Linked DNA regions of Homo sapiens: region 2 is linked to region 1. Evidence: fine-mapped expression QTL. A gene starts in region 1. The other region holds a variant in brackets. All regions are shown on one strand. Distances are from middle to middle.

What was found. PIP is the estimated chance that this variant, and not a neighbour inherited with it, causes the effect.
Region 2: its variant is the best candidate, but not a certain one, in a credible set for the expression of FAXDC2 in whole blood (INTERVAL, PIP 0.75).

Annotation. Positions count from the first base shown.
Region 1 is chr5:154,841,664-154,857,293 of GRCh38, forward strand. It overlaps FAXDC2 (fatty acid hydroxylase domain containing 2), which reads right to left and starts at 8,940. Exons shown (of 9, transcript NM_032385.5): 1 at 8,820-8,940. RefSeq lists a silencer at 1,266-1,560.
Region 2 is chr5:154,884,434-154,900,063 of GRCh38, forward strand. GEMIN5 (gem nuclear organelle associated protein 5) reads right to left here. Exons shown (of 28, transcript NM_015465.5): 22 at 14,758-14,877; 23 at 14,007-14,217; 24 at 11,659-11,910; 25 at 7,954-8,116; 26 at 6,808-7,309; 27 at 4,888-4,984; 28 at 2,978-3,944. The coding sequence ends at 3,777. Among named protein-coding and RNA genes, the nearest start is that of CNOT8, 34 kb to the left of the region's middle. The variant C/T (reference allele first, on the strand shown) is at 10,364.

The DNA of each region.
Region 1 (15,630 bases):
AGGTGGATAAGGGTCCCTTCAGAGAAGCTGCCCTTCACACAGTGCTAGGATTCTGGGATGAGGCAAAGTCATATTCTTTTTTTTTTTTTTTTGAGGCAGTCTCACTCTGTCGCCCAGGCTGGAGTGCAGTGGCACGATCTCAGCTCACTGCAACCTCCGCCTCCCTGGTTCAAGCGATTATCCTGCCTCGGTCTCCCAAGTAGCTGGGATTACAGGGGTCTGCCACCATGCACAGCTAATTTTTTTGTATTTTTAGTAGAGTCGGGGTTTTGCCATGTTGGCCAGACCAGTCTCGAACTCCTGATGTCAGATGATCCACCTGCCTCGGCCTTCCAAAGTGCTGGGATTACAGGCATGAGCCACCGTGCCTGGCTTGTGTCATTTTCAGCCTGGCACTTTGTTTGCTGTCTGGAGTCCCAAAAAGCATGGATCATTAAGCACAAGGGAGGTAGTGGTGTTAGGTACTTTTAGGGCTAAACCTATCAAATGTTTCATTTCCCCCACCCTTGTTGTTTGTTTGTGTGTTTTTTGTTTTGTTTTGTTTTGTTTTTTGAGATGGAGTCTCACTCTGTCACCTAGGCTGGAGCGTAGTGGCACAATCTCAGCTCACGGCAACCTCCACCTCCTGGGTTCAAGCAATTCTCCTGCCTCAGCCTCCCTAGTAGCTGAGATTACAGGCATGCACCACCATGCCCGGCTAATTTTTTTGTATTTTTTTTTTTAGTAGAGATGGGGTTTCACCATATTGGCCAGGCTGGTCTCTAACTCCTGGCCTTGTGATCCACCCGCCTCGACCTCCCAAAGTGCTGGGATTACAGGCGTGAGCCACTGCGCTCAGCCCTTTGTGTGTTTTTTTTTTTTTTTTTTTTTTTTTTTTGAGACAGAGTCTCACTCTGTCACCCAGGCTGGAGTGCAATGGTGCAATCTCGGCTCACTGCAACCTCTGCCTCCCAGGTTCAGGCAATTCTCCTGCCTCAGCCTCCCGAGTAGCTGGGATTACAGGCACGCACCACCATGCCCAGCTAATTTTTGTATTTTTTTTTTTTTAAGTAGAGATGGGGTTTCACCATTTTGGCCAGGATAGTCTCAATCTCCTGACCTCGTGATCTGCCTGCCTCGGCTTCCCAAAGTGCTGCAATTACAGGTGTGAGCCACTGCACCCGGCCCTTTTTTTTTAAAAAAAAATAGAGATATAGGGTCTTGCTATATTGCTGAGGCTGGTCTCTAACTCCTGGGTCTTATTAAGAGATCCTCCTGCCTCAGCCTCCCAAGCACTGGGATTACAGGCATGAACCACCAGGCCCAGCTCAAATATTTAATGACAAGGAACCAACTGTCAAAAGAAACACCTCAACTTGGGAAATACTTGGGAGATCTAAATGTCTGCAAACCATTTGAAAACAGGCAGAGCCTTCACGTTAGTGTGGATTTCCCTCTTCAGTGTTTGTTAGGAAGGATAAAAGGTTCTGTTGACCCTGTTGAGATAACCATCCTGTTTGGGAAGGGAGTAGAGAGGATTTGGGGTTTGTTTGTTTGCTTTTCAAGCTTACAGAGCTCTTTTTGCTATGCCATGCCACAGGGAACTTCACTCACAAGTCCAAGTCTCCTAGCCTTTTCCCTGTCTTATCAACTCCATTATCTTTGCTAAGAGCTTGCAAAGCAAACGAGACATGGCCTTTGATCTTTAGGAGCTCATCCATTCCTTCCAAAAACATTTACGAACTTACTATGTGCAAGGAGCTGTAGAAAGTGCTGAAGATGCAAAAATGAGAAACTCTCAGTCTGGATACATATTCATCATTCTGAAATTTATATCAAAGTACTGGGCTAGAGGTCTATGCCAGAGCTAAGAAACTACTAGACAGGTAGGAGATCTGGTACACCAAGAAATCTCTATAGGAAGACAATGTCCAGGCTTTCTTCATGCTCTTGGATACATGGTCTCCAACTTCAAAACTGAACTTTCTTCCCAGACTGCATTTTAGCTTATCCAAAGAATGCTGTTTTTAGTCAGACCATAGTTAAACAAGATAGATAGAAGAGAAAAAAATATTTAACAGTCTGCCACATGAATACCAAAATAGCCATTGAAGACATTCCTTACTCCATTATTTAGTTAAGAAGAAGCAGTATACTTTTTATGAGGATATAGATGATGATTCCAATAAAGAAATAAGTTTGGCCAGGCACAGTGGCTCATGCCTATAATCCCAGCACTTTGGGAGGCTGAGGCAGGAGGATTGCTTAAGCCCAGGAGTTCAAGACCAGTCTTGGGTCGGGTGCAGTGGCTCATGCCTGTAATCCCAGCACTTTGGGAGGCTGAGGTGGGTGGATCGTTTGAGGTCAGGAGTTCAAGACCAGCCTGGCCAACATGGCAAAACCCTACCTCTACTAAAAATACAAAAATTAGCTGGGCATGGTGGCGGGTGCCTGTAATCCCAGCTACCAGGAGGCTGAGACAGGAAAATTGCTTGAACCCAGGAGGTGGAGTCTGTAGTGAGTCGAGATTGCGCCACTGCACTCCAGCCTAGGCAACAGAGTGAGACTCTGTCTCAAAAAAAAAAAAGACCAGCCTGGAAAACATAGTGAGACCCTGTCCCTACAAAAAATTAAAAAGATTAGGTGGGACGATCACTTGAGCTGGGGAGGTGGAGGTTGCAATGAGCTGTGATTGCACCACTGCACTCCTGCCTGGATGACAGAGCAAGACCCTGCCTCCAAAAAAAAAAAAAAAGAAAAAGAAACAAGTACATATAGAGACTGAGTCAGATAAAGACCAAAACAGAAATAAGTGCACAGAAGTTTTGCCTCTCTGGAAGAAGTGGTATGCTTTCTTATGGTGTGCAAAGAAAATTGGACAATCCATTTTTCCCTCTTTTTAAAGCACCTGTTTATTTTCTCTACAAATCACACCTTCCCCACCAAAATGATTTAGGTTATTGTCTGATGGTTTCTTATCAGTTTTTATTTATTTGAAGCTGTTCTATATATCCTTTTATTGGAAACTACCTCAAACCCTTTTGACATATAGGCTGGGTATAAAGTATAAATAAACAGAATCAGATATTGAAATTAAAAACAAAAACCAAGAGGAACTAGGATGACTGTCAGTACAATAAGATCTTGGCTCTGGAAGAAGACAGCTCTGGTTCACTCTACAGGGCAGAGTGCTGATCATGCCCACTGTGTCCATGTTATGGAAACTGCGTATTGCTGAGACTGAGTGATTAGGGGCTGATAAGTATGTTTGACACTGGACTCCTCTGCTCTACGTACACCTTCTGGCCAAAGGGAAAATGATTGCTTACTTTCTGGTGGTGAGAAGGCTTCTCGGCTGTAAGAGCAGCAGCATTTATCTGTTGACATCTCATTTCATTAGAACAAACAAAGCATTTCCTGACATGTCATTTATTCTTTAGTTACGCCAATATGGCCATATGCAATTTCCAGAGATACTTATCTAGGTACTGAGTCCTCCAATTGTATTGTTCTGCTGAATATGTTATGCCAAAGCAGCTTGCTTTCTGTGCCTCTCTGCCCGCCTGCAGACATGTTTTCAGTTTTACATGAACATGGTCAGTCAGAAAGGTTCTAGGGGAGACCTCAAACATGGTAGGCAGTGGGTCTTCACCCAAAGAAGCTCCTTAACATTGTTTGCTAATGATAGTGTTCAAGTTAGAAATTTTGGCAAATAAAACTAGCAACAACATTTACTAATACACTGAAGTACCATAGTCATTACTTTCTGTGACTTGACTAATTCTTTTTTTCTTCCTTTTGGAGTGTGCCGTCTTAAGAACTGGAAGTTGGACTGGGCATGGTGTCTCATGCCTATCATCCCAGCACTTTGAGAGGCTGAAGCGGGAGGATTGCTTGAGTCAGCCTGGGAAACACAGGCCCTATATCCACAAAGTATTAATATAAAAAAAATTAGCCAGGTGTGGTGGCTCATGCTGCAGCCTGGGCCACAGAGGAAGACTCTCAAAAAACAAAACAAAAAACAAGCAAACAAAAAAAAACAAACTGGAAGTTGTATTAGAGCTCATCTATTCAGATGCCCCCATTTTCCAACTGAAGAAACAGAGGTGCAGAGGTATTTAGTATTTGGCTTCAAGTTGGACACCTATTTTTTTTTTTTTTTTAGATGGAATCTTACTCTGTTGCCAGGCTGGAGTGCAGTGGCGTGATCTCGGCTCACTGCAACCTCTGCCTCCCGGGTTCAAGCGATTCTCCTGCTTCAGCCTCCTGAGTAGCTGGGATTACAGGCATGCGTCACCACACCCAGCTAATTTTTGTATATATATATATATATTTTTTTTTAGTAGAGACGGGGTTTCACCATGTTGGCCAGGATGGTCTCGATCTCCTGACCTCATCATCTGCCTGCCTCGGCCTCCCAAAGTGCTGGGATTACAAGCGTGAGCCACCACGCCCAGCCTGGACACATATTAGTGGCAGAACTTGAATTCAGTGCTCATTATACCAACTGAGACTACAAAAGTATAGAATACATTGATGTTGAAGAGCACAGGGTGAGTGTCAGGGATTGAAAGGGACACAAAAGCATGAGATTGGCCTATATTAGCCATGAATAGTGAACTAGATAGTGTGTGTGTGTGTGTGTGTGTGTGTGTGTTAATACCAAAGGACACGTTTTCTCTAAAATACTAATCATTCTTTCAAGAAACATTTATCAGATGCCAGAGACAATGCTAGACATGGGATAGAAAGATGAATAAGACATGCTTTTTGCCCTATTTTATAACATCGTATAACTTTGATTTTCCAGAGAAAGTAGGAGGATAATAGCATACTTATTTTAGAATGGAATGCATTCAGAGGACAGAAAGAAATGAAGTGTACTAAAAGTAAATATTTTTTAAACATTTATTTTTTTAATTTTTAGAGATGGGGTCTCACTATTTTGCCCAGGCTGGTCTCAAACTCCTGGGCTCAAGTGATGTTCCCACCTCAGCCTCCCAAAGTGTTAGGATTACAGGCATGAGCCACCATGCCTGGCCGAAGGTTCTAATATTTTACAACAATGAATGGATACTTCCTTAAAGTGAATTTGATATTCTATTGTGAGTTTATCCAAATTTTATTTATTTATTTATTTTGAGACAGAGTTTCACTCTGTCCAGGCTGGAGTGCAATGACCCAATCATGATTCACTGCAGCCTCGACTTCCTGGGGTCAGGTGATCCTCCTGCCTCAGCCTCCCTAGTAGCAAATTAGATACTTTTTAGTGTGGTTCTGGTTTTTTGTTTGTTTTTTTTTTAGTGTGAACCAAGGATTTTATTTATTTTTATTTTTTAGAGATAGCATCTTGCTCTGTTGCCGAGACTGAAGTACAATGGCTCAATCATAGCTCACTGCAGCCTCAATCTTCTATGCTCAGGTGATCCTCCCACCTCAGTCCCCTGAGTAACTGGGACTACAGGTCTGTGCCACCATGCCGGCGAATTTTTAAAAAATTTTTGTAAACATGGGGTCTCCCTATGTTGCCCAAGCTGGTCTTGGACTCCTGGGCTTAAGTGATCTTGGTCTCCCAAAGTGCTGGGATTCCAGGCATGAGCCACTCTGCCCTGCCTATGTGGTTTTGTTGAAAGCAGATGATTCTCAGTATGCAGGCTTTTTATTAAAGAATCCCCAATCTAGATAAATGACACAGTGAAGCTATAGCTAATGTTTACAACTTCAAGAATCTGAGTAAAGGACATGGGAATAAGGTGAGGCTGGAAGGAATACAGACGGTTTAATCTTGAATTTTATTTGTCTACAGCCCAACTCTTTCAGATTTTCTTTTTTCTTTCTTTCTTTCTTTTTTTTTTTTTTTTTGAGATGGAGTCTCGCTCATGTTGCGCAGGCTGGAGTGCAATGGCATGACCTTGGCTCACTGCAGCCTCTGCCTCCCGGGTTCAAGCGATTCTCCTGCCTCAGCCTCCTAAGTAGCTGGGATTACAGGCACCCACCCCCACCATGCCTGGCTAATTTTTTTATTTTTAGTAGAGACGGGGTTTCACCATGTTGGCCAGGCTGGTCTTGAACTCCTGACCTCAGGTGATACACCCACCTTGGCCTCCCAAAGTGCTGGAATTACAGGCATGAGCCACTGCGCCTGGCCCAGATTTTCTTTCATATTCTTGTTTCCTGGATATTCTGCATGATTGATGAATGTTCCTTTTTTTTTTGAGACAGAGTCTTGCTCTGTCACCCAGGCTGGAGTGCAGTGGCGCGATCTTGGCTCACTGCAAGCTCCATCTCCCGGGTTCATGCCATTCTCCTGCCTCAGCCTCCCGAGTAGCTGGGACCACAGGTGCCTGCCACCACGCCTGGCTAATTTTTTGTATTTTTAGTAGAGACAGGGTTTCACCATGTTAGCCAGGATGGTCTTGATCTTCTGACCTTGTGATCCGCCCGCCTCGGCCTCCCAATGTGCTGGGATTACAGGCGTGAGCCACCATGCCCGGCCTACTGAATGTTCCTATTTTATAGATATAAATACATCACCTTTATGTGAATGTGTATTGTTTTGTAAACAACTTGTAAAATTGTTGAGACAATTTACTCTTAGAGGGGGGAGAAAAAAGACCTCATGTTCATCTGGTCTACCCCTTCCATTTTATAAGCTAAGGAGGAAGCCCTAGTTAGTAGAAATGACTTGCTCCAAACTCCACATGGTTTCTGGCAAAATCTAGGCTTCTTAACACTTTGCCTAGTGCTGTATGTATTTTGGGAATAGCATAACTTCTATTTCATAAGAAATGACACAGGGAGAGGGCAACTGACCCAAAGATTAGAACTCCCCTTACTTCAGCCTCTGCTCTCAGACTGTATGCTAGGAAAAAGCTGAGCAGTCGACCTCCAGGGCTGAGGAGACTGACCTGTAATGTAATTACACAGTTTAAAGCCTCTGGTGAAGAGGGTTTTGAGGAGCTGCTATGACTCAACATCTGTACTAATCTGAGGCTTATATAGAAGATAGAGTGGCCGATATTCATTTAAGAAGATGAAATGCGGCCAGGAGCGGTGGCTCGCATCTGTAATCCCAGCACTTTGGGAGGCCGAGGTGGGCAGATCACCTGAGGTCAGGAGTTTGAGACCAGCCTGGCCAACATGGCGAAACTCCGTCTCTACTAAAAATATAAAAATTAGCCGGGTGTGGTGGTGCACGCCTGTAATCCCAGCTGCTCTGGAGGCTGAGACAGGAGAATCGCTTGAACCTGGGAGGCGGAGGTTGCAGTGAGCCAAGATCATGCCACTGCACTCCAGCCTGGGCGCCAGAGCAAGAGTCTGTCTCAAAAAAACAAAAAAAAACAAAGATGAAATGCGGCTGGGCACGTTGGCTTATGCCTGTAATCTCATAACTTTGGGAGGCCGAGGTGGGTAGATCACCTGAGGTCAGGAGTTGGAGACCAGCCTGGCCAACATGGTGAAACCCCATCTCTACTAAAAATACGAAAATTAGCTGGGTGTGGTGGCGGGCACCTGTAATCCCAGCTACTTGGGGGGCTGAGGCAGGAGAATCTCTTGAACCCAGGAGGTGGAGGTTGCAGTGAGCTGAAATCGCGCCACTGTACTCCAGCCTGGGTGACAGAACGAGATTCCATCTCAAAAAACAAAAAAAACAAAAACAGAAGATGAAATGCATGAAAGGAAAGGTTAAAAATGATTCCCATGGGCCAGTTTTAGTAATACTCTCTTCACTCCTTTTGCTGCATGGTACTTGCACCCTTTGAGCTTACTGTTCTGCTTGATTGCATGTCCATGAGGCCGAGAATCTGCCTGTCTTGTTTACCACGAGATCCACAGAATCAAGCCCAAGCCTGGCATGTAGAAGATACTCAAGAAAGATTTGCCGAATAAATAAGAGATACACGAATCAAAAGCATTGCTTTTTGCCCTCAAAAAGTGTTCAACATTTGCTATGGAACATTTTAGCACCATTCCCTTGTGCTAATTACTTTCGTAACTAAAGTTAGAAGCTGATGCTCAGTGCATCTGTGTTTTAGCAAATTGAATTGAATCTGTATATCCCACTCAAAGAAATTTAATTGGAATTGCACATGAAACTGAAGCAACCCACAAATCAGCATCTTGTCTTGCTTGCCTTAAGCCCCAGAAGGTCCTGAAAGCCACTGTTCTATTGTTCATCTCCACCTACACACTTTACTGTATGCCCTTTACTCAATAACCTTCGTGGAGTGTTTCCATAGGTACTATCAAGCCACTAACGATTTCACAACTGGAGCCACTGTTGGTAAATCCAAGTATGTTGCATCAAAACAGTTTCAACCTACTTGTCTAGCTCATAGCCCACACATCTATCCAGAGACTTTAAAACTGTTGTATTTTGCCCCATACCTTCCTGGTGATGGCAGAGTAGAGATGAGAAGCAATTAGGCAGCAGTTGCTTCCCAACAGTCTCTTCCAGTTTGTTCTGCCTCTCATTTGAGTTCTGAATTAGGAGTTGCTCCTTTACAAATGGTTTTAAAGTCAAACAATTACTTGTCCATTACAATCACCTGTCAATTGCTAGAAAAATTAGACTACTGAGGAGGTAGATGGTACAAACACAGGCAGAGGATACAGACATTAGTAAGAGACAAGGAGGCGACTGCACTACAGCAATGTCCTAGGACAAATTCTAACCCTGCCATCTAACCCTGTTTAGAGGCAAATCTAACCCTGCCATAAGTAGAGAGGACAGGGTGGTGGCAGAGGTGGGAAGAGTGTTGTTTTGCCCTTACTTTAAGTGAACCTGGACATGTCCTGACCTTTGCAAACACCACCCCTCCCCCGTAGTTCCCACTTACCTCTGCAGTGGGCTGTGTCCAAGCTGCTGAGGTCCTTGCACAGGTCAAATCTAAGTTCTCTTCCCTTTCAGCCCCCGCTTTGGTGGCTGTTGCTGCTGCGGCTCTGCTGCAGGCTAACCTTGTTTTTGCTCGGGTGGGAGGCTGGCCATGGTGATCTCATTACAGAGCTGCGTACTGGCTCGGACCAGGCACGTGATGAAAAAAGTTTGGGTCTGTGTGGGCTGGAAACAAAACACCCTTCTTTCCAGAGGGCATGTCCTTAAAGCGGAAAGGGAATCTAAGCTCAAGCAGGAACTTGAAAAACGTGCATTTGGCCAAACTCTGGGCTTCCCTCCCCCTGCCCCCTTTTTTTCTTTTAAAAAATTTTCTCCATCATCTGCAACTTAAGAAAATGTCGCTGTCCCATAGGAGGAGGCAGATTCAAGAAAAGATGTGGGTGTCAGATAATGGCAGGTAGTACAAGTTGATAAAAAGGTGACAGAGACCAGAGGATCTCATTTTCTTTTTTTTCATTGCTTCTTTTCCTGTGGAGGGCAGGCAAGGGAGGAGAGATGCATCAGCTATTTCTAGTGAGTCTAGATGCAGGAAAGGCATGCCTGTGGAGGGTAAATTTGCACTGTGATTGAAATAGGGGAACTTAGGATACAGGACCCATGACATGAAGTGAGGAGCACTTTGGAAAAAGAGCTGCTTTTAAATTTCTGAAAACTTTTTAAATAAGCAAATGTGCAAATGATATAAAATACAATAGGGTCAAAAGAATGTACAATGAAAAGTCTTTTTTTAATTTCTCCTCAGTCCCCTTTTTTTCCTCCCAAGAGACAACCTCTGTGACCAGATTTTTGTATATCCTTCCAGAGCTTACCTCTGTAAATAGAAACATGTGTAGGCCTTGTGCTTCTCCTTTAGCAACAGCACCATAGTATGTTTGTTGTGCACCTTGCTTTTTCCACTTAACAATCAAACATGGAGATTGGCTAGGCATGGTGGTGCTCACCTGTAGTCCCAACTATTTGGGAGGCTGAGGTTGGAGGATCACTTGAGCCCAGGTATTTGAGACCAGCCTGGGCAGCACAGGAAGACTCCTTTCTAAAATAAACAAAACTCAGAAACTTGGCTGGGCACGGCGGCTCACATGTATAATCTCAGCACTTTGGAAGACCAAGACGGGAGGATCACTTGAGGCCAGGAGTTCAAGACCAGCCTGGGCAATGTAGCAAAACCCCATTTCTACTACATATACAAAAAATTAGTAGAGCTTACTGGCACATGTCTGTTATCCCAGCTACTGGGGAGGCTGAGGTGGGAGGATGGCTTGAGCCCAGGAGTTGGAGGCTGCAGTGAGCTATGATTGTGCCCTGCACTCCAACCTGAGTGACAGAGTGGGACCCTGTCTCTAAAAAACAAAACAAAATAAAAAATGCCGGGTGCAGTGGCTCATGCCTGTAATCTCAGCAATCTTTGGAAGGCTGAGGCAGGAGGATTTCTTTTTTTTATTTTTTGAGATGGAGTCTTGCTCTGTCACCCAGGCTGGAGTGCAATGGCATGATCACAGCTAACTGCAACCTCCGCCTCCTGGGTTCAAGCGATTCTTCTGCCTCAGCCTCCCGAGTAGCTGGGACTACAGGTGTGCGCTGCCAGGCCCGGCTAATTTTTGTATTTTTTTTTTTTAGTAGAGATGAGGTTTCACCATATTGGCCAGGCTGGTCTTAAACTCCTGACCTCATAATCTGCCCACCTCAGCCTCCCAAAGTGCTGGGATTACAGGCATGAGCCACCACCGTGCCTGGCCTGGCAGGAGAATTTCTTAAGCCCAGGAGTTAGAGACCAGCCTGGGCAACATAATGAGGCCCTGTCTCTAAAATAAATAAAACTGTCAACAACAAAACATGGAGACTGCTCCATATAGTACCCTTAAGAGCTGCCATGTTCTGTTTAATGGCTGCCTCCCGTCCCATTGTATAGATGTGTCATACTTTATTTGGCCAATAAAGGACCATGTCTTCCTCATTTTCCTTGCCTAATTCGTTGCACAAAGCAAGGGCTCAGTAAACATTCAATGCTTGCTCACAAATTAATTACATTTTGTACAACTTGTTCATGTTTTTCCTCATCTCTCCTTTCAGAGATACTAATTTTTTTCAATATTCCAGATATTGCAGAATGTCTATATTTTCCAGCTGACCAAGTCTATCTTGTGCACTGAACAAACCTGTGCTACCAGACTTCCAAGACTCACTTTAGTTTGGCTCCTCTCAGATGATATTATTTCCTATTCCCTCCTACTTTCTATTTTTTAATTTTTTTATTTTTATTTTTGAGATGGAGTCTCATTCTGTTGCCCAGGCTAGAGTGTAGTAGCACAATCTCGGCTCACTGCAACCTCCGCCTCCTGGGTTTAAGCGATTCTCCTGCCTCTAAGCGATTCTCCTGCCTCAGCCTCCAGAGTGGCTTGGACTACAACAGGCGCCTGCTACCACGCCTGGCTAATTTTTTTTTTTTTTTTTTTTTTTTGTATTTTTAGAAGACTCAGGGTTTCACCATGTTGGCCAGGCTGGTCTCAAACTCTGACCTCAGGTGAGAGTTCTGAGGTTACAGGCATGAACCACTGCACCTGGCCTATTTTTAAAAATTTCTTGGCCGGGCGCAGTGGCTCACGCCTGTAATCCTAGCACTTTGAGAGGCCGAGGCGGGTGGATCACGAGGTCAGGAGATCGAGACCATCCTGGCTAACACGGTGAAACCCGTCTCTACTAAAAGTACAAAAATTAGCCAGGCGTGGTGGCGGGCGCCTGTAGTCCCAGCTACTCAGGAGGCTGAGGCAGGAGAATCGCTTGAACCCAGGAGGCAGAGGTTGCAGTGAGCCGAGATTGCGCCACTGCACTCCAGCCTGGGCGACCGACAGGGCGAGACTCCACCTCAAAAAAAAAAAAAAAATTTCTTTAGACACAGGGTTTCACTCTGTCACCCAGGCTGGAGTGCAGTGGCTCAACTATGGCTCACTGCAGTCTCAACCTTCTGGCCTCAAGTGATCCTCCCACCTCAGCCTCCCAAGCAGTTGGACTACAGGCACACACCACCATGCCCCACTAATTAAAAAAAAACATTTTTGGAGAGACAGAGTCTGGCTATGTTGCCCAGGCTGGTCTTGAACTCCTGACTCAAGCAATCCTCCTGCCTCAGTCTCCCAAATTGTTGGATTACAGGTATGATTCACTGTGCCTGGCCTCCTTCCTACTTTCTAATGCCAAGCATCACTGTCATGTGCAAACATTTATTGTTCACTTACTATGATGTACAGAAACTTTTTTTCCTATTTCCTATTGTCTCCATGTCCATATCTTTGCTTACGCTAATCCTCTCACCTGGAATTTCCTTCCTGTTCCTGTCAAGTATTGTGCCTCCAGTTCTTTTCTCTCTCTCTCTCTCTCTTTTTTTTTAAGAGATGGGGTGTTGCTATGTTGTCCAACCTTGTCCCAAAATCTTGGCCTCAAGTGATCCTCCTGCCTCAGCCTCCCAAAGTGCTTTAGCCTCCCAAAGTGCTAAGATTACAGGTGTGAGCCATTGTGCCCGGCCTAATTCTTTTCTTCTTGAACTTTTGTAGTTTAAGTGGTCAACACTCCCTGGAGTAGCAGGTACTTTTTTTCCTACAATCATTTCATATAGGGTCTTTATGTATTTCCATGGCAGTAATAACTCTGGCACTAATAACACTGGTCTTCAGTAAATAGTTGATTGCTGAGCAAGCCTTATAGAGAAGAGCATCTGTCTAGTGAGAAGCTCTCCAGCCTTCCTGGGTTTTCTCTCCATCCTATCTTTTTTTCTTTTTTTTTGTTTGAAATGGAGTCTGGCTCTGTTGCCCAGGCTGGAGTGCAATGGCATGATCTTGGTCCATTGCAAACTCCACCTCCCAGGTTCAAGCGACTGTCTTGCCTCAGCCTCCTTAGTAGCTAGGATTACAGGCACCTGCCATCATGCCCGGCTAATTTTTGTATTTTTAGTAAAGACGGGGTTTCACCTTGTTGGCCAGGGTGGTTTTGAACTCCTGACCTCAGGTGATCCACCTTCCTCGGCCTCCCAAAGTGCTGGGATTACAGGCGTGAGCCACCACGCCCAGCCAGCTGTGTGGTTCTTAAGGGGTCCCATTCATTTTATAACGAGTGTTTCTCAATTTTGTTTATTTATTAATTTTTTTGAGATGGAGTCTCTCTCTGTCGCCAGGTTGGAGTGCGGTGGCGTGATCTTGGCTTACTGCAACCTCTACCTCCCGGGTTCAAGCAATTCTCCTGCCTCGGCCTCCCGAGTAGCTGGGATTACAGGCGTGTGCCACCACACCCAGCTAATCCAGGGGTTTCACCATGTTGGCCAGCATGGTCTCGATCTTCTGACCTCGTGATCTGCCCGCCTTGGCCTCCCAAAGTGCTGGGATTACAGGCGTGAGCCACCGCGCCTGGCCTTCTCAATTTTCTTAAACTTATACTCTCCTGCTGGGCGTGGTGGCTCAGGCCTGTAATCCCAGCACTTTGGGAGGCCAAGGCGGGCAGATCACCTGAGGTCAGCAGTTCGAGACCAGCCTGACCAACATGGAGAAACTGTCTCTATTAAAAATACAAAATCAGTCGGGTGTGGTGGTGCATGCCCGTAATCCCAGCTACTCGGAGGCTGAGGCAGGAGAATCGCTTGAACCCAGGAGGCAGAGGTTGCGGTGAGCCGAGATCGCGATATTGCACTCCAGCCTGGGCAACAAGAGCGATACTCCGTCTCAAAAAAAATGAAAAATAACAACAACAACAACAACAAAAAACAAAAACGTATACCCTCCCAAATGAGATTTGTTCGAACCTGACTTTCTATAGTTTGCAGCTCAAAAACAATAGGGGCCAGGAGCAGCGGCATGCACCTGTAATCCCAGGCACTCAGGAGGCTGAGTGAGGAGGATTACTTGAGGCTGGGTGCCCAGGGATTCAAGACCAGCCTGGATAACGTGGCAAGACCCTCATCTCAAAAAGCAATAGAGTTTTCTTCTCAAATATGAAATGATGTAACTGAATATATTCTTTTCCAACTACCCTCTCATTCATTAGGGGCTTCCTTCCGACTGGGAAGCAGTGACTTCTGGAAAATTATTCTAATTTTGCGATATCCATGAGTACAGCATCATATCCAATGTTCAAAACGTTAACACTCTAGGCCGGGTGCGGTGGCTCAGGCCTGTAATCCCAGCACTTTGGGATGCCAAGGCGGGAGGATGACGAGGTCAGGAGATCGAGAACATCCTGGCCAACACATTGAAACCCTTTCTCTACTAAAAGAAAATACAAAAAATTAGCCAGGCGTGATGGCTGGCGCCTGTAGTCCCAGGTACTAGGGAGGCTGAGGCAGGAGAAAGGCGTGAACTCGGGAGCCGGAGCTTGCAGTGAGCCAAGATTGCGCCACTGCACTCCAGCCTGGGCGACAGAGCGAGACTCTGTCTCAAAAAAAAAAAAAAAAAAAAGAGTAACACTCTAACTTCTCCTAAAATAAAATCCATCTGTTTGCTTTATATCTATTTTCAATAATTTGAGAAACGAACACCCAATTCTGGGTGAGGGGTGGTAGTGAGGCTGGACATGGTGTTTCCTGTTTGTTTTAGCACACACCAGGCCCAGTGCCACAGGAAAAAACAAAATTCCAAGAAAGGATTGGGGAGGCCGCTTTTCATGTGACTACTGCCTGCCTGTCAGCGCTAGCCTCTTCTGACTCTAAATTACAAGTGGAAGAAAGCACGTTAGAAACCCACAGAACTGGCCCGGCGCGGTGGTTCAGGTCTGTAATCCCAGCACTTTGGGAGGCCGAGGCAGGCGGACCACGAGGTCAGGAGATCGAGACCATCCTGGCTAACAGGGTGAAACCCCGTCTCTACTAAAAAAAGAGAAAAAAATTAGCCGGGCATGGTGGCGGGCGCCTGTAGTCCCAGCTGCTCGGGAGGCTGAGGCAGGAGAATGGCGTGAACCCGGGAGGCGGAGCTTGCAGTGAGCCGAGATCGCGCCACTGCACTCCAGGCTGGGTGACAGAGCGAGACTCAGTCTCAAAAAAAAAAAAAAAAAAAAAAAAAAAAGAAACCCATAGAACTGACTGGGGGATGGGGCACTTGCCTGCCTTCTTTATCAGTGTATCCCTCAACGGAATCACTGTTTATTTTTTTATTTTTTGAGAGGGAGTCTTGCTGTGTCGCCCAGGCTGGAGTGCAGTGGCACGATCTAGGCTCACTGTAACCTCCGCCTCCTGGATTCAAGCAATTCTCCCTGCCTCAGCCTCCGGAGTAGCTGGGATTACAGGTGCCCTCCACCACGCCCAGCTAATTTTTGTATTATTTAGTAGAGACAGGGTTTTGCCATGTTGGCCAGGCTGGTGTTGAACTCCTGACCTCAGGTGATCCGCCTGCCTTGGCCTCCCCAAGTGCTGGGATTACAGGCTCAGTGAGCCACCAATCCCGGCCCCAAATCGACTGTTTTAGGGAGAGCAAACTGAGACATGCCATTTATTGAACGCTCTTTTATATCTTCCTCGGTGCGGGGTGTTTTTCCAATTATTAACTATTTAATCTTCACAAGCTCACGACAGCCATTCGTAACCTAATTTTGCAGATAAGGAGCTAGACACTCATTTGGGGGGGAGAAGAGGAGGACTGGAGTTCAGAAAGTGCATTTGATGCTCTTATCCTGGAGGCTGGAGCTAGTTCACCTCCCTGGAGAACAGCTTTTGGGAATCCCGTTTGAAATTGCCGCTCAAGGCCAGCTCGGCATCCAGCCTAGGAATTGGAGGATTTTGG
Region 2 (15,630 bases), 43 kb after region 1:
ACACCCTAAATAAAAGCGATTGTTACCCTTGTGCAACAGGTAAGCCAGAAACCCAAATTGTTCCCTTTCCACTCGGATGGACCTCCAACCAACAGGGCTTGAGCTGTATGGTAGCTCTCTTCCAAAACCCCACAGCCCGGGGGAATAAGGCATGCTAAACTCTCGCTGCTATTTCTGGAAGTTAAAGGCCCTGTAGGTCAGCCCGAGGGCCTCCGATTAACAATGTAAATTTTACGTGTCTCACGACAGGGGGAAAATTTGGCATTCCTTGGAAGCCTAATGGGATGTAGTGAGTCCAAGCCTTTTCAGGAGCTAACCAATAAGTCTGCCCTTGTTCATCCCTGAGCATCTGGATTTATGGTGGTATTGTGGTGGGCCACTATTGGGTACTCTGCCAAGTAACTGGAGGGACACTTGCACTCTAATCCAATTGGCCATCCCTTTCACCCTGGCATTTCACCAACCAAACAAAAAGAACAATTGTTAAGAGAAGTCCCCCTTACATGTCCTTTGACCCTCACATTTATATAGATGCCATTGGAGTTCCATGAGGGGTGCCAAATGAGTTTAAAACCCAAAATCAAATACCTGCAGGATTTGAATCTATATTGCTCTCATGGGTAACTGCAAACAAAAATGTAGACTGGATAAATTACATTAACTATAATCAACAATGGTTTGCTAATTATACTAGGGATTCCATTAAAGGAATAGCTGAACAATTAGGCCCTACCAGCCTAATGGCCTGGGAAATTGAATAGCCCTGGACATGGTATTAGCTGAGAAGGGTGGGGTCCATATCATGATTGGAGTCTAATGGTGTACTTTTATCCCCAACAACACAGCCCCGGATGGAACAATTACAAAAGCCCTAGCAAATGAATTGGCCAAAAATTCTGGAGTAAATGACCCCTTCTCTAATCTCATGGAAAAATGGTTTGGCAAATGGAAGGGACTCATAACCTCAATCTTTACCCCCCTTGCAATTGTTATAGGTGTACTTATTCTTGTAGGTTGCTGCATTATACCCTGTATTCATGGATTAGTGCAAAGACTCATAGAAAAAGCTCTCACCAAAACCCCTCTTGCTTCTCCCCCACCCTACTCAGATAAGCTCCTATTCCTGAGTGACTAAGAGGAACAATAAAGTCAAGATATGTTAAGGAGACTTGACGAGGAAGAACTACCAAGTCAAGAGGGGGAAATTTGCCAAACCATCAGTTCCTCTTCAAACTTCCTTGTTCCTTTTAGCAACTAATGTCCTTTCACATTGCTAGAAAGGATAAATTCTTGTTCTCTAAACAAGACTTTCCATCTTTGCTGTGCCTAAACATGCCCAAATATGCCTTAATGGACAATCCCTCCCTCCCAACCTTTCTTTACAAGTTACGTGTTTAAAGGTTTCAGTTTACCCTATTTGGAAAAGTTTTACCACTCCTACCCCTTCTTCCCTGTCTACCCTATTTGGAAAAATTTCAAGTTTTAGCCAATCAGGTTAGCTTAAATTGTGTGGTCCGACTCCAGCCAATGGGAAAAGGATACAGAAACAGAAGCTGCATTAGGGATAAAAACCTTTCTCTCCTTTGTTCAGTGTGCTCTTGTGATTGTGACTGGTGCAGGCAGCAGCACCCTTCTGCGGACGTAAATTTGCCTTGCTGAGAAGTCTTTTGTTTGAGTGCTCATTTTCTTTGTGACTCTGAGCTCTTATTTCCAACACTGGGATTACAGACATGTGCCACCATGCCCAGCTAATTTTTGTATTTTTAGTAGAGATGGGTTTTCTCCATATTGGCCAGGCTGGTTTCGAACTCCTGACCTCAGGTGATCCGCCTGCCTTGGCCTCCCAAAGTGCTAGGATTACAGGTGTGAGCCACTGTGCCTGGCCATAATTCATTTTAAAAAGTTTATTCATTACTTATAGAGATGGGAGCTTGCTATGTTGCACAGGCTGGCCCTGAACTCCTGGCCTCAAGCAATCCTCCCACCTCAACCTCCACAGTATCCAGAGTACAGGCGTGCACCATAGCACCAGGCAACTGAGTGCAATTCAGCCCCTCCATATATACTGCCAAATGTTGGTCTCAAATATATACTGCCTCCATATATACTGCCCAGCTGGTCTCAAACTCCTGTCCTCAAGTGATTCACTTGCCTTGGTTTCCCAAAGTGTTGGGATTACAAGCATGAGCTACCATGCCTGGACTCAAATAGATAATCTTGTTCTTACCAAAGCAGTAACTGAGGAGTGTGCAGGACTCCTCCACCCACAGGTGATGCTTCTGACAGATCACAAAGGAATTTAGAATTCTAGTTTAACAATATCACTCTTTACTCAAGTGGAAGGGAGTATATATTTTTTCCACCTCTGTAAGTAAAGTTCATTTTAGCAGTTGGTAGAACTGGTGTCCTACCAACTAGGCTAGGTTTTCTACCTAGCCATGCCTATTTATGTCTTTGCAATCAAGAAAGATTCTCCATCCCTGGTAACAAAGCATCGTCTTCCTAAAGTTCACTTCACTGTATGAAGAACTGTGAGGATCTAAATTCTACAGTATTTCCCTTTGTGAGTTTATTAAACTCTAATGCTAGGCACATACACGTCTTTGAAAACTGCCTCAAACTTTCTCCTTCCTGGGACTTCCTGTAAATGAATTTCATTCTCACTGTCCCAACAGCTCCAATCCTAGGAATTAATTGAAAAATAAACTACAAACGTGAGCAGAAAAGCCTTCACAATGAATCCTAGAGAAAACAGTTCAATTATCTGAAAGGAGTGTTCCTTCCTACACCCATGCCAGACTCTGATTTTCCCATGCTAGCAACTGTGACATTACAGAAACATCTGTTCCTGACACTGTTCAACTGTTTAAATAACCAAGGAGGAGAAAAAAAAGATTTATAATTAAATAGTATTTAGGGTCCCAATAGTCAGAGTCCAATAATCCAAAGGTCATCTATGCAAAATTAGGAATATGCATTTTTCTCCAAAGAGTATCTTTGGCTTTAATCTGATTCTCAAAAGGATCCTATGATCCAAGAAAGTTTAAGAACCATTGAAACAGTAATTTATTCCTGAGCTATTTGACTGCCATCAATCCATTTGTTATAAAACTGAAGGGAAAACACACATTTGAATCACTTCTTCTAAAGCTTTAGTAAGTGATCTGTTCAAATAAGCAATTACATGAAAGAATAAAACCAAATTTCCAACCTAAAATTCTGACAGGAGAGTCAACATGATGGTTAAGGCCTATTTCATATTCAAACTTCAGTCTATGAAAGAGTAGAGAGAGAAGGGTCTCCTCTTTCAAATTAAATATTATAAAAACAATTAAAAAAAGGTATCAATAGTCCTAAAATGCAGCAACTCCATCTCAAACAAGCATGACACACTTCTGATCAGATGAAGTATTTACAAAGGTAGCTTGTGTTTTAAGCATGTAACACTTTGGGTGACGACAGAAGTTTCTCCTCTTTGGGTGAAACCTGCCTAAGGCTGTAGAGATGACCAACACTCTGCAGGTGTTAGTTCTGAATAACTACTGTGGGCTTTTCATGATCTTCCCTCCAGTAGGAGACCACAATTGAGTCTAAAGTCAGATCCACCGTTGTCTATGGGTAGGCAGGGTTGATTCAAACTTAATCCTTGTTTGTATTCTTTTGGATTACTGCAAAAACATCTAGGGACCAGAGTGAATGTCTGGTGAGGCATAACTGCAGAGGTGAAAGATGTCAAACATTTTCAATTTGGCAGTTTCTTCAAGGTGTGTGAAAATTCACATACAGAAGGTCTGGCAGTGTCTTCTGTAAGTTTTCGTGTTGCCGTATTTCTGAAGGAGCTCTTGGGCCTGCTGCTGCATTTCCTGGGCCAGACAGCCAGGAAAGTGGGACCTGATGAGAAGCAGGACGAGGCAGCACTCCAGCACATCTGGGAAGGGCCAGGCCTGAAAGACGATGACATGAGGATGAATAAGGAAGCATTTGCAGAAGAGCCACAAACACCTGCACAGAAGGCACCAGTCACTCAGGTTCATCTATAGACACTTCTTGGACACAGCTGAGCCAGCTGTCTCCTAAGGCAATGTCCTGTCTTTCTCTTCAACAGTTACTCCAAGGAGAAATGACACTCAAAACTAGGATGGCTACTGCGATGTCCTTCTCAATGGCACAATCTCTTTCTACAGCCCTATGCAAATCCACCCTTAAAAATGGTGCTTCTATTAATATTTGGGCCCACAGCCAAAAAGACCTGTCCATCTGTAAGCTATCTAATACATGGCACCAATTTAAATTTTACTTCTTACCTATTAAATCTATTTGGTTTCTCTGAAGATTGAGGTATAAAATTACTTGTGTGATCGATAATTCTAGTCTCACAAAACATTCTAGCTAACCAAAGTAATTGGATTCTAAATTCTTTTTTTTTGTTTTGTTTTTTTTTTGAGACAGAGTCTCGCTCTGTTGCCCAGGCTGGAGTGCAGTGGCGTGATCTTGGCTCACTGCAAGCTCCGCCTCCTGAGTTCACGCCATTCTCCTGCCTCCATGCTATTCTCCTGCCTCAGCCTCCCGAGTAACTGGGACTACAGGCACCTGCCCCCACGCCCGGCTAATATTTTGTATTTTTAGTAGAGACGGGGTTTCACCATGTTAGCCAGGATGGTCTTGATCTCCTGACCTCATGATCCGCCAGCCTCAGCCTCCCAAAGCGCTGGGATTACAGGCGTGAGCCACCACGCCCAGCCTGGATTCTAAATTCTTAAGCACATATGAATGGGTAGAGATTTTAGAAACTGAACAGAGAGGTAGCTGACCTTTATAAGAATGTGGTATAGTCAAGTGATAACACAAAAAGTGATGCTTTACCAAATGAACTGCTTTAACTCTTACCTTAATGCTCTCAGGAAATTTCGCCATTCTCTGATTTGCCTCGGTAAGCCTTTTGGTTAACTCAGGCAGAGAAAGTGGCTCATTTTTTTCTTCTTTACTAGTGAAAAAAATAAAAGGTGTAAATTGTATGTCTTGCCCTGGGTAACATTTTTCTCCCATTGTTATTTTACTGTGGTAAAATGTATATAACATAAAGCTTACCATCTTAGCCATTTAAAAATACATAGTTCAGTGATTTTAAATAAATTCATAATGTGGTGAAAAACATCCCCACCACCCATTTCCAAAAACTCTTGTCATTTTGTAAAACTGAAATCTTATACCCATTAAACATTAACTTCTCATTCTGCTTCCCTTAGCCCCTGTCAACATTATTCTACTTTCTGTCTCTATAAATTTAACTATTTTGAGTAGTTCATATAAGTGGAGTCATATAGTATATGTCTTTTTGTGACTGGCTTATTTCACTCAGCATGATGTCCTCCCTTCGTAAGGCTGAATGACATTCCATTGTATGGATATGGCACATTTTGCTTATCCATTCATCTGTCAGTGGATACTTAGGTTGCTCCCGTGTTTTGGGTATTATGAATAATGCTGCCATGAACACAGGTGTGCACATATTTCAGACCCTGCTTTCAATTCTTTTGGGTGTATACCCAGATGTGGAAGTGCTGGATCCTATGGTCATTCTATTTTACATTTCTGGAGGAAGTGCTGCTGTACTGTTTTCCACAGTGGCTGCATCATTTTACATTCCCACCAATAGGCACAAGGGTTCCAATGTCTCTGCATCCTCCTCAACACTTGTTCTGTTTCTCTGATAGTAGCCTAATGGCTATGAAGTGCTGCTTCACTGTAGTTTTGATTTGCATTTCCCCAATGATGAGATGTTGAGCATCATTTCCTGTGCTTACTGGCTTTTTAGAGAAATGTCTATTCAAGTCCTTTGCCCATCCTTGAATTGGATTATCTTTTGTTATGCCTGGGTAGCTTTTACCTTTTATTTTTAATATTTTTTAAAAATTTAAACTTTTGCCTATGACACAGCCCTCAGGAGGCCCTGAGAGCATATGCCCCTGCCTGGGTTACTTTTATCTCATTTTATAAATAAAATTCCTTTGTCACCTGGCTTCTTAAAATTTAATTTTTTTTTTTTTTTTTTGTAGAGACAGGGTCTGTCAACCAGGCTGGTATGAGTGGCATGATCGTATCTCACTACAGCCTCGAACTCCTGGGCTTAAGTGATCCTCCCACCTCAGCCTCCTGAGTAGCTGGGACTACAAGTGCATGCCACCACTACTGGCTAATTTAAAAAAATTAATTTTTCTAGAGACAGGGTCTCAATATGTAGCCCAGGCTGAACTTGAGCTCCTGGCCTCAAGTGATCCTCCTGCCTCAGCCTCCTAAGTAGCTACAGGGTACATGCCACCACACCTGGTTACTTTATTTGTATTTTTTGAGATGAAGTCTCCCTCTGTTGCCCAGGCTGGAGTGCACTGGTGCGATTTTGACTCACTGCAACCTCTGCTGCCCAGGTTCAAACGATTCTCTGGCCTCAGCCCCCCAAGTAGCTGGAATTACAGGCATGTGCCACCATACCCAGCTAATTTTTAGTAGAGACGGGGTTTCACCATGTTGGCCAGGCTGGTCTCAAACTCCTTACTTCAAGTGATCTGCCCACCTCGGCCTCCCAAAGTGCTGGGATTACAAGCGTGATCCACTGTGCCCGGGCTTTTTTTTTTTTTTTTTTTTTGTAGAGACAGGGTCTCGCTTTTTTGCCCGGGCTGGTGGTGAACTCCTGGGCCAAGTGATCCTCCTGCTTCAGCCTCCCAAAGTGCTGGGATTATAGGCATGAACCACTGTTCCTAGCCAGCAGGGTCATTTTTCATTCCGTCTTGTACTTGCCTCAGTACTTACCACTGGCTCTGAGAACTGCAGAGGGGCTGCTCTGCTTCTACTTCCGGTTCATTCTTATCAGGACCATTTGCTGTGGATTTACAGAGTTGACTCTTTTGGTGTTGTCGGATCATTTCTGCCAAGGTCTCTTGGACTTCAGCAACAGTTCTCTGTGAGTTTTGGAGACTGGCATGCTTTTCTGAAAAGAGCTCCTTAAAAGTACTCAGCATTCGCTCACCTTCTTCTGTGAGTCTCAAGTCTAGTTCTGAAGGCCTGTTTGGCTCTGGCTGAGAAGTTTCAGGGTCCGTTTCTTCAGTGCTGGCAGTGTCTAACTGCTGGCTTGGCTCAACAGAGAGTGTTCTGTGACCAGCCCTTACCCAGACACTGGAATTTGGGCAAGGTCTGGAGAGAGACCACCAGAATTCATACAGACGCCCATAAAGAAAAAAGGCCTCCAAACTTTTGAAAGCTGGTGTGGCAGGGGATTGATGGTCCCCCAACTTGTCTCTTAGGTGGTCACAGCCTAGGAAAAGAGGAAAAAGATACTGGGTCATGCATTTCTCTAGTTGCCAGAAATGTGGCTTCCTGCCCTTATGTTCTATTTCTTATCAACCAAGAAGCAGACCCCAGGAAAAAGGACAACAGTGTGATCCACCGGGCCACATGCCTTTCCACCAAGAGCCAACTGGAGGCTAAACATTTCCTGGCTTGCGACAGTGTTCTCATTACTACATCCTAGGAGTCATTCAAAGCATGATAGAGTATTCCATTTGTACTACTGAAGGCTCTGGGGCCACGACAACAGATCACACTGTCTCTCTGAAAAATCACAATGATTTAGTTCAGTGACTGACTATGCAGCCCAAGGAATGTCTATCTTTTTTGCTGTTCTTTTCTGTTCTTACTAACATGTAACTACATTCCTATTTCTCTCTCCCTTAAACTTTGTGGAAAGTGGACAGGAGGCTGTAAGAGGGTAGGGCCAGGTAAAGGAAACAGTATAGTTGTTCTTAAAAGCTTCGGTAAGAGAATCCAAACTTTCTACTAAAATGACACAGCTGGCCAATCTCCATCTTTTAAGAATCTAGGTACTCCCAGTGCCACACCACTAATGGTGGTGATGTTGTCCATTAAAGGGTGTGCCTCAGGCAGCAGGAAGTCACTTACCGTCAGGGAGAAAGGCTGAGTACACTTCCTGCATGATGGTGAAGCTCCCTGAGTCATAGCTCCGGACCACCGCCCGAAGGAGCGCCTGCACAGCCTCGTCCCAGGAGGCCATCTGTTGGCTCAGCACTGCCAGGGTCAAGTCATGGCAAATGTGAAGCAGGAGCTGGAGAGAGAAGCCAGAGTCTGAGTTAAACATCCTCCCACGGTAGGCGCAGAGGATGCCACCAAACTGTTCCTGTGAACCGCATTTGGAAACAAGTACACACAATTCACACTTTGAAAGTTCCTCTTGTCTCCGCCACCCATTTTTGCTTCCCACATCGGAAACTCTCATGTCTAGTTGCACAGCAGCACACACACGTCCCGGTGTTAAAGTCTGTTCACACTGAGAAAACACCTTTACATTTGCATTTAATTAAAACAAAAAGTGGGCCAGGCGCGGTGGCTCATGCCTGTAATCCCAGCACTTTGGGAGGCCAAGGTGGGCAGATCACAAGGTCAGGAGTTCAAGACCAGCCTGGCCAACATGGTGAAACCCCGCCTCTACTAAAAACACAAAAATTAGCCAGGCATGATGGCGCGTGCCTGTAGTCCCAGCTACTCGGGAGGCTGAGACAGAAGAATTGCTTGAACCCGGAAGGTGGAGGTTGTGGTGAGCTGAGATTGCGCCACTGCACTCCAGTCTGAGCATGAGAGTGAGACTCCCTCTCAAAACAAACAAACAAACAACAAAAACAAAAAGTGAGTTTCTGGAACTAAAAGCTGTAATTAAAAACAAAATAAAGGCTGGGTGCAGTTGCTCACACCTATAACCCCATCACTTTGGGAGGCTGAGGCGGGCGGATCACCCGAGGTGAAAGCCCGTCTCTAAAAAAAAAAAAAAAAAAAAAAAAATTAGCCGGGCTTGGTGGTGCACGCCTGTAATCCCAGCTACTTGGGAGGCTGAGGCGGAAGAATTGCTTGAACCCGAGAGGCGGAGGTTGCAGTAAGCCACTACACCCGAGCCTGGGTGACAGAGTGAGACGCTGTCTCAAAAAAAAAAAATCAAAACCCACCAAAAACAAAACAAAACAAAGCTTGGAGTACAACTAAGAAAAATGTGCTCAATTTTAAGTATGTAGTTTGAGAAACATATATAGTTACAACACTACCAGCAAAATCAAGACAGAACATTTTCATCAACTGAAGATATGCCCTCCGGCTCCTCTGCAGGCGATCTCCTGGCCCCACCCCACTGGCAACCACTGAACTGGTTGTCACTTTAATTTTTTCTTTTCTAGAATTCATATAAATGGAACCACAGAGTATATAGTCTTTTGTGTCTTTAAAGCTTTTGAGATTCACCGATATTCTTCTTCTTCTTCTTTGTTTTTTTGAGATGGAGTCTTGCTCTGTCGCCCAGGCTGGAGTGCAGTGGCACGATCTCGGCTCACTGTAAGCTTGGCCTCCTGGGTTCACACCATTCTCTTGCCTCAGCCTCCAGAGTGGCTGGGACTACAGGAGCCCGCCACCACGCGCGGCTAACACCGATATTATTTGTGTGGCAGTAATTTGTTCCTTTTTACTTTCTTTTTTTGAGACAGGGTCTCATTCTCTTACCCAGGCTGTAGTGCAGTGGTTCCATCTTGGCTCACTGCAGCCTCCGTCTCCCAGATTTGAATGATTCTCCTGCCTTAGCCACCCTAGTACCTGGGATTACAGGCTTGTGCTACCACACCCGGCTAATTTTTGTATTTTTACTAGAGACAGGTTTTTGCCATGTTGCCCAGGCTGGTCTCAAACTCCTGAGCTCAAGCGATCCACCCGCGTTGGCCTCCCAAAGTGCTGGGATTACAGGTGTGAGCCACCAAGACTGGCCCTTTTTATTGTTAAACAGTATAGTATTTCACTGCATAGACACAACACAGTTTGCATATCCATTCATCAGTTGATGGACATTTGGGTTGTTTCTAGTTTTTGGCTACTGTGCACTAAGCTGCTGTAAACATTTGTGTACAAGTCTTTGTGTGGCCATCTGATTTCATTGTTTTAGTGGAATATCTAGGTAGCAGAACTGCTGAGACATGGGGCATGTGCATGTTTAACTTTATAAGAAACTGCCTGGCCAGGCGTGATGGCTCACACTTGTAATCACAGCACTTTGGGAGGCCGAGGCAGGTGGATCACATGAGGTCAGAAGTTCAAGACCAGCCTGGCCAACATGGTGAAACCCTGTCTCTACTAAAAATCTGAAAAATAGGCTGGCTGCAGTGGCTCATGCCTATAATCCCAGCACTTTGGGAGGCCGAAGTGGGCAAATCACGAGGTCAGGAGTTCGAGACCAGCCTGGCCAACATGGTGAAACCCCTGTCTCTACTAAAAATACAAAAAATTAGCCGGGCATGGTGGCAGGTGCCTGTAATCCCAGCTA[C/T]CCGGGAGGCTGAGGCAAGAGAATTGCTTGAACCTGGGAGGCGGAGATTGCAGTGAGCCAAGATCATGCCACTGTACTCCAGCCCGGGTGACAGAGTGAGACTCCATCTAAAAAAAAAAAAAAAGTAAAAATATTAGCTGGGCGTGGTGGCACATGCCTGTAATCCCAGCTACTTGGAAGGCTGAGGCAGGAGAATTGCTTGAACCTGGGAGGCGGAGGTTGCAGTGAGCAGATATCATGCCACTGTACTCCAGCCTGAGCAACAAGAGTGAAATTCCGCCTCAAAAAGAAAGAAAAGAAAAGGAAAAAAGAAAAGAAAAAAAGAAACTGTCCAATTGTTTTTCAAAGTATATACCATTTGAGAAGCCTTGTTCCTCATAAATATCATAATGTTCCCTCATTTTGAAATGAGGGAAAGAACTACGCCAGGCACAGTGGCTCATGCCTGTAATCCCAGTACTTTGGGAGGCTGAGGCGGGAGGATCACTTGAGGAATTCGAGACCAGCCTGGGTAACAGTGAGACCCAGTCTCCAGAAAGGAAAAAAAAAAAAAAAAAGAAGTAGGTATATTCACAAGGCAGACATAGCAGTTAAAATAAATCAACTGATCTCTTTTTATCAACATGGATAGATTTTACAAACAATGGCCTCTGAAATAAGCAAACAGCAAAACAATACATGTGGCACTGACACAGGAGGTGCCTGTGGCGAGCTAGGGAAGGAGTGAAGGGCTGAGGAAAGGAACAAGAAGGACTTCAACTTTGCCCTACTGTTTTTATTTTATAAAGTCCTCAAATCAAAATACAAAATGAAACCAGAAAACCCTACAAAGTAAAAATGACAAAATGTGAACATCTGTTAATTCTGGTTGATGGGTTATTACATTATTCTGCTTTTCTATATTTTCTAGACTTTTTATTTTACTTTTTTAGAAAAGGAAATAGTGGCTGGGCGTGGTGGCGCACGCCTGTAATCACAGCTCTTAGGAGTCTGAGGCGGGAGAATCACTTGAATCTGGGAGGTGGCGGCTGCAGTGAGCCAAGATCATGCCACTGCACTCCAGCTTCAAACAACTAAAAAAAACAAAACAAAAAAGGGAATACTGATCTAATACTAACTTTAAAGTTAAAGGGCTTTGATTAGTCTAAAGGGATCTTTCCAGGTGGCGTGGCCATGCCTTAGCCTTTTCTGAAACACAGTCCAGTATTCTGCTTGTTTCCCCGTTACAATAGACATGGATTAAGGAAGTCTTACCACTGAGTGATTAATGTCAAATGCTGGTACAGATGGCTTACCTGTTTGGCAGGTGTGTTATTTGTAGCAGATGGGTACTTGATGTTCTGCAGCTTCTGAAAGGCTTCCTGATACTGCTCAGGGGTGTCAAGGCTGAAGATGCTCTTCCACACTGCAGTCACCCTCTCCACGAAAGGCCCTTCGGTGCCCGTGTTCCAAGTGTGGTAAGAGGAGGAGCTTTTGCCCTCTGAAAGCTGCTTTTCCTCCAGATGCCTGGACAGTAGCTCCAGAAGGCAAAACACCAATCTCTGACCCTGGAACACGACAACAAGGAAGAGGAACTGTTATACAGGGAAAGCACTGGATGATCTCGAGAGCTCTCCCGTGTCCTTCAAAGTATTTCCCTTTGTATCTGCAGCAACCAAAGCACATTAGTGAGCTACCTGCCCCATATGAGTCATGCATGAAAAGAGACAAAAGGGGCGATCTGACAGACACTTCCCAGGTCCCTTTTGGGGGAAATCTATCCTTAGAGCTCAAGAAACCATTTTTATAACACAGAATCCCAACTGTAGCACTACCCACAATGATTTAAGCCACACACAGACCAGCCACTTAAGCCTTGTAGCCTAGTTTGAGGAAAAGAAGGGCTGGGCTCATCAGGTTCTTTCTCCCTGACCAAACTTTGGACTCAGGAATAAAAGCATAATGGGCCAAAGGTGCTGGAATAGACAAGCTTTGCAGATCCAAGAGCTGGGACAGGCATTAGGAGCCATGTCCAAATAGGTTTAATAGAGGAAGCTGGCTGGGAGAGAAGAAAACAGAAGCACAGAGAAGGCCTAGAAAATCTACTTTCACTAGATTTTTAGTTGCCATGAGATTCCTTGTGTACTCCTATAACAATATCTTCTCAGTTAAGCTTGCAAGAGTCTCTGTTGCACAAAACCAAAATAGCCCTTATCAGAATATTTAGCATATGCTTATTAGGTTTTTTTGCTTTGTTAAGGATGCTGTTTAAGAGAAAAATAAAATGCTAAACAGTCATTCTGGAAACTTTTTTTGATGGTGGATAAATTAAAATCTTTCTAGACTTGGTCATTTTATAAATAATGCCCAGTGGCATTATCTTTTAGGGTGTCCTATTTTCACCTCCATTTTTATTCTGCTGTTCCTAGAAAGCTACCTCCCCATGTACCACGTTCCTTGGGCTCTAAATATTCAGCTAAAAACCATCTGTAGGCCCTGTACTCTGTTAGAGAATGAAGAACTTAAAAAACCTCTTGTTAGTATCTCACAAAGTTATCTAAAGTGAATCAAATGTTTACATGTTTCAGAAACTAGGTAAGTGTGCCAATGCTTTAATCTGTTTTGATGTGTCAAAAAGGCAGTGGTATGTTACTGATTTTTAATCAGATGGGAACAAAAAAATTTAAGAAATAAAGAGATTTCCATTTTCCCACACTTTTCTCTTTTTTTTCTGAAGAGTCTCACTCTGTCACGTAGGCTGCAGTGCAGTGACACAATCTTGGTTCATTGCAACCTCTGCCTCCTGGGTTCAAGCAATTCTCCTGCCTTAGCCTCTCAAGTAGCCAAATTACAGATGTGTGCCACCATGCCTGGCTAATTTTTTTATTTTTAGTAGAGACAAGATTTCGCCATGTTGGCCAGGCTGGTCTTGAACTCCTAATCTCAAGCGATCTGCTGCATCTGGCCCAGTTTTTTTTCCATAGCTTACAGTTAAGAGGGGCATTTACAGGTAGAGTTCCATGATTTCTGTTAGAGGCCAACCATTCTCTCTTCAAGGAAGACAGTGCTGATAACATCAATGAAGAAACCCTAGACTGCCAACCCAAGGCCTGGGCTGACTAAGGTGTTTTTTTTTGTGTTTTTTTTTTTTTTTTTGAGACAGAGTCCCACTATGTTGCCCAGGCTGGATCTTGGCTCGCTGCAACCTCCGCCTTCCGGGTTCAAGTGATTCTCCTGCCTCAGCCTCCCAAGTAAGCTAGGATTACAGAAGCGTGCCACCACGCTCGGCTAATTTTTGTATTTTTAGTTGAAACGGGGTTTCACCATGTTGTCCAGGCTTGTCTCAAACTCCTGACCTCAAGTGATCTGCCTGCCTCGGCCTCCCAAAGTGCTGGGATTACAGGCATGAGCCACTGTGCCCGGCTCACAGGTGTTTTGTACAAACAGATAAGCAATGGGAATTACTGTGAATGACCATATTATCTCTTACTCTGAATACGGCAACTAACAAGTCATAGTACTTCAGTGGGATAGCATGGCCAGGGCTTGCTGGGCCTGCCAAATTGGCACAGCTTGTGCAACTGGGTTATTAACTTGGATTTGACTAGAAAAGGATTTGGGACACTTCCCTCTTGTATACTAGGAGATGAAATAACAGACTGACCTGTAGACTTTCATGCAGCTGCAGGGCTTCCTGGGCTCCCACCCAGTTGTTGGCCAGAAGCAGCTCTTGGGCACATCTGAGAGCCAGGGAAGCAGACAACTCATCCTCTCCTACGATGGCAGCCAACTCTGCAGCCGTTCTAAGTGATGCCGCATCCCCCTTTTTGGCCAAAACTTTGGCTGCATCATAAGCACAAGTGGCCCCTAAATAGCTATAATATGAATAAAAATGTGAAGAAAATGTCACAAACAGATTTTTATTCCCATTCCTAGAGGATGGAATCATTTCTTTCTATCTACTTTGCTGCATGTGCCTTCCTGTGGTCCCAGGTATGTCACTGCCCCGGTTGTTCCTGTGAAGGCTGAGGCCAACACAACTCAGCAGAGTGTATGAGAAACAATATCATATAGGTTAAGGACATAAGGAAAATGAGAGGGAATGACTCCTCTGTTGGGTTCAATCCAGCATGGGTTGAGGTTCCTTTATTTGATGTTATAAGAGACCATTAGAAAAATGCATAATTTCTTAATCTGCTGCTGAGGTTTTTCTTGAATAGTTATAGTGATTTATATAAATAAATCAGGAAGTAGTTCCTGATGAGTCTTATGAAACTAAGTTGAATATACATATCTTTTAAATAATTCCTTGCTGCTTTACCTCCACCTCTAAACTTATTACTTGTATTCTTGTCCTCCCCTTCCTGGCAGAAGCTCTCCTATGTTGGAAGCATCCCTCCACTCCTCAGGCTTACCATTTGGCAGCTACAGCATAGTGGCCATCTCTTTCTAGGACGGTTCCCCAGCTGAGGTACAAGTCCTTCAGGACTGGGTCCTCCGGGCGCAGCCGGGCCTTGGCAATCGCAATAGCTTCCCTAAAGGCAAGAACAGACCCTTTAGCCAATCTGAAAAGGCTCCTCTGTGTATGGTCCTAGGAGGGGCTGTAAGACAGGACAAACTGTCCCTTTTGTGTTGTCTTATTGTTCCAACTTCCTTTAAAAACTGCACTTGCATTATATAGACAAATTAGAAACATATGCTGCATTCGTTTCTTCACTTAGATCAGCAGTTCTTAAATTGTGGTCTGTGGATTCCTAGGGGGTCCTCAAGAACCTTTCAGAGGGTTCATGAGGTTAAAACTATTTTCGTAACAATGCTAAGAGTCAGTTATGTGCTTTTTTATTAAAAAAAAAAAAATGTGTTGACATTTGCACTGATTGTGCCAAAGCAGTGATTGGGAAACCTGGCATCTAAGAAGGAAGGCGGTGGCTCTTACAGTGGAAAAAAAGGAAGAATGCCCTTAATGAAGCAGTAAAAATTACAAATTTTACTAAATCCGTCAAGTCCAAAACACTTTAATATTCTGTGTGACAAATGGGAAGAACATTTTGTGTTCTCTGCTGCATTCCAAAGTAGAATGGTTGTCTCTAGGTAACACCTGTATGAACAAATTACAAGCTAAACTGGCTGCTTTTTCATAGAACCTTCTTTCTTCTAAAAAAAAAAAAAATGACTAACATAAATAACAGTTATTCAGTGTTGGGTATTTGGCAGATGTTTTTCTCAAAAATGAACAAAGTAGGCCTATCACTTCATTAAAAACAACCAACAGTATTTGTTACTAATGA